Linked DNA regions of Homo sapiens. The protein of the gene in region 2 purifies or fractionates together with the protein of the main gene of each other region. This does not show direct contact. Each region holds a gene or a part of one and is shown on either strand. Other genes may lie near its edges.

Region 1 (3,733 bases), on a different chromosome or scaffold from region 2:
GGAAGCCCGTGAGTGAGTTGCGCAGGTCAGGGTGCATCTGGCAGTGCTCAATAAACTCCTCCTCGCTCTGCAGGGGCATCTTGCAGATGCGACAGGTGCCCGTGTCCAGGCTCTTGCTGTGGGTCACCTTGTGTTCGGTGAGCGTCAGCAGCGAAGGGAAGCGCTCACCACAGATGGGACACATGTAGTGCTTGGCAGGGCCCCGGTGCGTCTGCAGGTGCTCCCGTAGCCCGTTCTCCGAGAAGAAAGTCCGTGAACAAACGTTGCACTTGTGACTGCCCTTGATAAACTCAGCCTTCTTGCGTGAGCCATCATCCTCGCCCGGCCGGATATTGTGGTCCCGCAGCCGGTGATTCTGCAGCAGCACCTCCATGGTGTAGGCCGCCCCACAGATGTCACAGCCGTACATGGGCTCCGACGCGTCCACGTCATCCTCGCTGGCCTCATGGCTGTTAGGTGCCTCAGGGTTCTTAAGCAGCATGCCCTGCAGGTCAGCAGGCTCAGCTTTCTTGGTGGCCATTGGGGGTACCCCATTGGCCGTGCCGTTCTCGGTCGCAGCATCAAACACACAGTGCTTCTCCCGCAGGTGCTTCTCCAGCAGGATGATGGCGTGGAAGGCCTTGCTGCAGAACTTACAGTTATACTTCTTGCTGTGTGTGGTGATGTGGCACTGCAGCTCCACCTCGGTGCTGAAGGTCTCCCCACAGAAGATGCACTTGTGAGCCTTGGCCGGGTTGCCCAGGTGGCTGTGTTTGACGTGCACCTGCAGGTCAGCCTCCTTGCGGAAGTCCCAGTTGCAGGCCGTGCAGCGGTACATCTTCTTCTCATTGCTGTGCTTCACCGCCAGGTGCACCTGGATGGACACCTTGGAGTCGAAGACCTCCTGACACAGGGTGCAGTGGTACAACACAAAGGTGTGCATGTCCAGCAGGTGCTTCTGCAGGTCATCCACCGAGGAAAATTGCTTGTCGCAGCTCTCGCACACATAGTGGGTCGACGTGGTCATGTAATGCACTGTCAGGTGCTGCAGGAGGGACTCCTGGGAGTCAAAGTCCTCTTTGCACTGGGGGCACGCTTGCTTCCGCAGCAGCAGCTCCAGGTGCAGCTTCAGGTGGGTCTGGAAGCTCTCAAAGTTGGAGAACTTGAGGTCGCATTGATTGCAAGGATACTCCCCATTGGAGATGGAGTTGGCGCTTGCTGAGAGCCGCTGCCGCTTCGGGGAAGACACCTCCACATCGGACGAGACTGGGCTCTGCTCGGCCTTGGACTTCTTGCTGTGGGCCAGTGGAATGTTCTTGTGGTTCTCCTTGATGTGCTTGGTGAGTTTCAGGATGGAGCCAAAGATGGGGGAGTTGGTGCAGTAGGGGCAGGAATAGACCTCCATGAAGGACTGCGTGGGCTGCACCACCGGAGACTCTAGTTTGGCACTGCCCACACTGCAGTGGGCCTGCTGGATGTGCTCGGTGAGGGAGGACTCAGTAAGGAAACCCATGGAGCACTGGTTGCAGAAGAAAGCATTATTACCGTCAGAGGGGTTGGCGTTGGGGCCGCAGTGGGAGACGCGGATGTGCTCCTGCAGGCTATTGATGTCGGCGAACATCTCGGGGCAGTAGTTGCAGTGGAAGGCAGAGATGTTGCCAAACTGCATCACAGGGTAGGCATGGTTCTTGTGCAGCTTGCGAACGTGCTCGTTGAGGTTGTAGAGGGTGGGCATGGAGTCCAGGCAGATCTGACATGTGTGGCTCTGCTGGGGCTTGTCCGCGTGGATGGTCTTCAGGTGGATCTCCAGCACGGCCAGGCTGTTAAAGTCCCGCTTGGAACAATAGGGGCAGCTATAGACCACCTTGGTCCAGCCCTGCCCGTCATCCCGCATCTTCTTCTGCCCCCGCAGCGGCTTCAAGGTGGAGTCCGGGGTGGAGCCACGCTCCACAGAGGCGCTGGAGTCGGGTGTGGCGCTGCTCATGGAGGCCACGCTGCCCAGTACAGGGTCGGGACTGACACTGTGGTTGCTGGAGTCGGGCTGCCGGTGGCTGTCCAGGTGGCAGTAGACACCTTCCACTGAGGAGAACTGCTCAGGGCACATGGGGCACTTGTGTTTCTGGTTGGCGTGGGCTTGGTGGATATGGGCGAGCAGTGTGTTCTCGTCGACGAAGACCTCAGGGCAGTGAATGCACTGCAGGTCCGCCTTCTCGGACAGCTGCGGGTGGCGGGTGAGCACGTGCTTCTCCAGCTCCTCCGTCTGGCTGAAGGTGTCCTCGCAGTAGTCGCACATGAAGTCGTCCTTCTTGGCTTCCTTCTCCGACTTGGCCAGATGCTCCTTGTTCTTTTTGTGGGCCTGCATGTGGCTCTGCAGCGAGCTGGTGGAGGAGAAGCCGCGCTTGCACACAGTGCACTTGAAGGGCTTGCTGGAGCTGTGGGTCTTCAGGTGGATCTTGAGGTGGTCGCTGCGGGAGAAGGCTGCCTCGCACTCGTGGCAGTGATACTTCTTGTCGCCCGTATGCAGCTTGATGTGCCGGTCACGGCTCCTCTTGTGCTTGAAGAGGCGGCTGCAGTAGGTGCACTTGAACGGCAGCTTGTCGCTGTGGATCTGCTCGTGCCTCTTCAAGTAGCTCAAGCGGATGAAGGACTTGTCGCAGAACTGGCAAGGGTATGGCAGGCCCGTGCCCCCTTCCTCCTCGCCGAGGCCGAGGTCACAACCATCTCCGATCATCTGCGTGGGTGACGCAACATCCTTGCTGGAGGGAGACGAGGCCACCCAGGAGAGTTGTGGGTCGTCATCACCATCTGCAAGAGAAGGCAGAGAGGATATTAGAGGCAATTCCCAGGGCTGCCGAGAAACAAGGACAGAGCCAGCTTCTCGACAGCACGCGGGCTGAGGCTGTGCAGCTGGCCAACGGCTGCAGGGGGCTGTGGGGAGGGGCAGGGGCCGGAAGCAAGTGGACACCAGGGCCTTCCTGTCTGCAGAGGGCACGCCAGAGGGGCGGCAGATAATGAAGGGGGAGCGCCTTTTCCCTTCACAACACTTGCCTGGACCTGGCAGGACATGATACCCCCCATCAGAGGGGAGGCTCTCGGCCACTTTCCTGATAGGGAAAGGAGGGGCAGCCTGGACAAAGTCACTGGAAACGAACTCACAGACCACCAGTCCCATAGGCCAAAAGGAAGACAAGTCCTGTCACTTGATCCACACCTGGGAGTCAACTCCCCTCAAATCCCTAATCCTGGAGGGAAGGAAATCCCACTGGTCCTTATGAACACAGGCAAAATTTTGCAACAACAAAAATGCCCTTATCAGATTGGCCATAGAATGCACCATTCTCTGGGTATGGGTGGACTGATGGAGCTGGAAGCTGCTGCTTCAGGTGGTAGACAAGACATAGGAGGTGTGAAATCACAGGGCAAGAGACAGCAGACTTCAGTGCTCAGGTGGGAAGGGAACCTAGGGCACTGAAGAGGCATCTGTGGGTTTCCTGGCCCAGGCCATCCTGAGACCCTTGTTTTCTTTGTTCCCACTGCACCCCTGGATTTGCCCCAACCCCACCCAGGATCAAGACAGATGGAGAGATGGTGACAGTGATTGGAGGATGAATGAGGACATGGAAGGCCACAGAGCTCAGACCCAGGCGGACCCTTAACCCCACTGCAAAGGCAAGGAAGAGACAATCCTTGTACAGACTCCAGCCAGTCCCACCCTCCCTGGGGACAGCCCCCACAACCCCCCTCGTTTGCTGGC
Region 2 (3,733 bases):
GCCCTGAAAAACTGGTGCCCACCTAAGGCTGGGTCCTCTTTGCCCTGCTGGAGATTGTGTGCAGAGGCTAAAGAGGCAAGTCCCAGAGTGTGGGCCCCACCTGCCAGCACAGCACCTGGGGGTGCAGTGGGCAGAAAGAAGAGCTTAAAGTGAGATGTTTACATTAATTTGACTTTAATTTCTCCATCCGTATGTCCATCACTGACATCTCAAAAGTAGGGATATTTGGTATATGACAGTACGAGCAAACCAAAAACCATTTTCTTTCTTTCTGTCTTTCTTTTTGAAATAGTCTTGCTCTGGAGTGCAGTGGCACGATCTCAGCTCACTGCAACCTGTCTCCCAGGTTCAAGTGATTCTCCTCCCTCAGTCATCCTAGTAGCTAGAACTACAGGCTGCACCACCAGGCCCGGCTAATTTTTGTATTTTTAGTAGAGACGAGGTTTCACCATGTTGGCCAGGCTGGTCTCAAAGACCTGACCTCAGGTGATCCACCTGCCTCAGCCTCCCAAAGTGCTGAGACTACAGGTGTGAACCACCACGCCCAGTCCATTCTTTTTATAGTTGTTTTATCATGCTCAATAGTCAGGGCATGGGATAGGGGAAAATCCAAAAAAGTCTCCTTGACATTTGTTCAATCAGAAGGAAAGGGCAGTGTCATCCACAACAGTGAATCCAGCACAAGGTGTGTCCCTGAATCAGACCTCAAACCTCCCACACTGTGGCCCTGTGTTAGGAAAGGTGACAGAGAGGCACAGACTCAGCAGTTATTCAGAGAAATGGGGACAGTCTCTGTACTTTTGGGATCTGTAATTGGGTAAGAATTGAGTTGGAAAATCCCTGGGAGGACAAATGCACAAACTTTGTATATATCCCTGTCCTGAAGCCATTTCATCATGACTTAAACAGGCACATACCCTCATCCAGATCCTGGCTTTCAGTTGATAACCAGATCTCCTGAAACCCAGGAAGTCATAAGATCTGAGCCCAGCCCCTGTTTCCAACCACTTCCTGCTCCTTCCTAGGACCACAGGGCATGAGAAGACATCGGGCCTCCTGGGAGCTGCCCACTTCTGTCACTGTTGGCCTATGATAGAGCCACTGACCTTCCAATAGTGGGGGCCTTTTCTTCTCCAGTGCTTCCCGTCAACTGCTGATTATAAACCCCATCATATCTTGTTTCTGATGTCAAATCTATGTTTAGCAAGGGCTGAGATTGGCAGCTCAAGAATGGTAAATTTCTGCTTTCCATATGTATGATCATTATTTAAACCTATTATAAGTTATATTCGCTCAAGCATTATATCCCTAGTTTGCCAGCTGGAGGTGTACTGAGGGTGACAAAGCATTATTTTTAGCTGAAAGAGAATGAGATTTGCAGGAATGGGTGGCTCTACTTTGTGGAGGTGGGCATTTTCTATCATGAGTAATATTGCCTGAAATGCAGTTGCACAGGCACGCTTTTTTTTTTTTTTTCCTCTTTCCTCTAAGAAGATGGATTTGCCACTGTATGTTAGAGTGGGGAAGAGCGGCGTGCTCTGTGGGGCGCTGAGTCTGGGCTGTGCTGGGCAGATTTGCAAGCAAGGTTCTGAGGAGTATTTTGAAGAGTCCTCCTGGAGGCAGAAAGACAACGTGATCGGGTGCTCAGGCTCTGGGGTCACATGGCTTGTGTTCCAGTTTAGCTGTACTATTTATTAGCCATGTGACCTGGATCAAATTAAGCCTCAAGTTTCCCATCTGTATAATGGGACTAGTGCTGACATCATACGGTCTTCAGGAGAATCACTATATGCTCATCACAGTGTAAAGCATCCAGCACACAGTATGTGTAGACAAGTAGAAATATGCATGTACTTGTACATAAGAAACAGGGCTGAGATATCCCAGACATGTGCACTGCCTTCCTCACCCCTCCCTGACTTCCAGGCTGACCTCCATCAGTGAGATGCCAGCCACCAAGGGAAGACACTGTGGGAAACTTTGTATGGCTGGGCTTAAGGGCACAGACTCTGATGGGGCTTACATTCATCTCCACCGTTTAACCGACTATGTCTGTGGTCAGGTATTTACCCTCTTTAAGCTTCCATTTTATCATTTGCACAATGAAGACCATAATGGCCCTCATACTTTAGGAAGATGTGAGGATTAAATGGTATAAAATCTGCTCCATGCATAGGACAGCCCCAGGTACACTGTTCAGTGCTCAATAAATGGTGGTTGACTAGTTTACTAATCTTATCTCCCTACCAGCTGCCTTAGGAACCCTGGCTATGTCTCTTTTAGCACCTCTGAATAATAAAGTATTTAGGAGATGAATGTTTCAGTCTGAATTTGAAGCCAGCTTCTGCCATGTATCAGCTGTTAAAAGTCAGGCAATTTCATAACCTCTCTAACCTTTAGTTTTCTCATCTGTCAAATAGCAGATATGAGTACCTACCACACAATCCTGCTGGGGGCAATGAATGAGGTTGTGCAGGTCTCAACATATGACACACAACAGAGTGCTAAGCTCATAAGAAAAATGTAAGAAATGGTGTGCTCAGTTTTAAAAGGTGGGTAACCTTTTATTCTTAATGAAAAGGTCATCTCAACTCTTAGCAACTATTTTATTTTCCAAATGCAATGGTGGGAAAGCGATTGAACAATTTTAATATGAATCAGAATACTCTAGTGGTGTTCTGGGGTTTCTTAATCCCAGTAGGAAGTCTTTGGCCTTTGGTCTATGATGATCTAACTTCAGGGCTCTGATCAAGTTATGGCTCACCCCCTCCCTGTTATCAGCCCCACACACGTTCACTCTGACACAGGCAACAGGAAGGGAAGGTTGAGTGACCTACTTCAGGAGAAGGCCAGTCCCGGGAGAGACCCTGCACTGGAGAACTTGCTAGAGTCCACAAAAGACTGATCTGATAATGGCGACCACAAGGAGTGAAAGAGGAGAAAAGAGAAATGATGCTGTTAGTCAGTAGAAACAGTATTCCCAAGCAAATCCCGGGCCTGAGCAGAATTGCTGAAGTTGGAAAGAGGACTTCTTGAGCACCTCCAGCAGAGGAGAGATGAGTATGGCCAAGGGCCAAGGGCCAGGGTTGAGGAGAGCAAATACAAAGGAACAGAAGAGATGAGGGCAGAGAGAATCAGGCAGGGCCCAAGGCTGATACCCTCAGCAATGGTGATGCATCTGCTTCAGGCCCTGGGAGGGTGAAGTCAGGGCATTGAATCTGGATTGGCAGGTGGGGCCTGGGGCTTACCTTGCAGGCTGTTCCCGTTGGTGCTGGTGCAGGTGGGAGGTGGGGAGGTCTGGGGTCTGACGACTGGTGCGAAAGCACTCTTCTGTTTCACGGCTGAGACCATGTTGGCTGGTGAGAAGGAGAAGATGCCCGAGGAGCTGCTGCAGTTGGAGGGGAGGCTTGTGGAGGAGGCCATGGTGGGGCTGGATGGCACTACTGAGAGGGGCAATGAGAAAGGAGAAATCAGTGCCTTTCATGGCATCCTGAAGCAAAGAAGCTCAGATCCATCCCTCACCCAGCCACCTTGCTCTGCCCTGCTCAGACGATGCTTCCAGCACAAACCTTCCCTGAATTCGCAGGCTCTCATCCACTTTCACTATACAGAACTTAGCACGTGCTACCTTTCATTACTGGAGATCTTTTATGTGTTTATTGTGGGGCCACTGTGTGCCAGGCAGTGTGCTAGGCACTAGGGTCATCAGCAGCAATTGTCATTAAGGGAAAAT

Evidence for each region.
Region 1: the proteins of EBF1 (region 2) and ZNF423 purify together in Homo sapiens (affinity purification with western blotting; one study listed by BioGRID). This does not show direct contact.

The regions. Positions count from the first base shown.
Region 1 is NC_000016.10:49,636,091-49,639,823, forward strand, and holds part of ZNF423 (zinc finger protein 423), read right to left. Parts: intron 2,785-3,733; coding exon 1-2,784. UniProt on the Homo sapiens protein: Transcription factor that can both act as an activator or a repressor depending on the context. Plays a central role in BMP signaling and olfactory neurogenesis. Associates with SMADs in response to BMP2 leading to activate transcription of BMP target genes.
Region 2 is NC_000005.10:158,704,731-158,708,463, forward strand, and holds part of EBF1 (transcription factor COE1), read right to left. Parts: intron 3,444-3,733; coding exon 3,249-3,443; intron 2,907-3,248; coding exon of another isoform or gene 2,839-2,906; exon of another isoform or gene 2,838-2,838; intron 1-2,837. UniProt on the Homo sapiens protein: Key pioneer transcription factor of B-cell specification and commitment. Recognizes variations of the palindromic sequence 5'-ATTCCCNNGGGAATT-3'.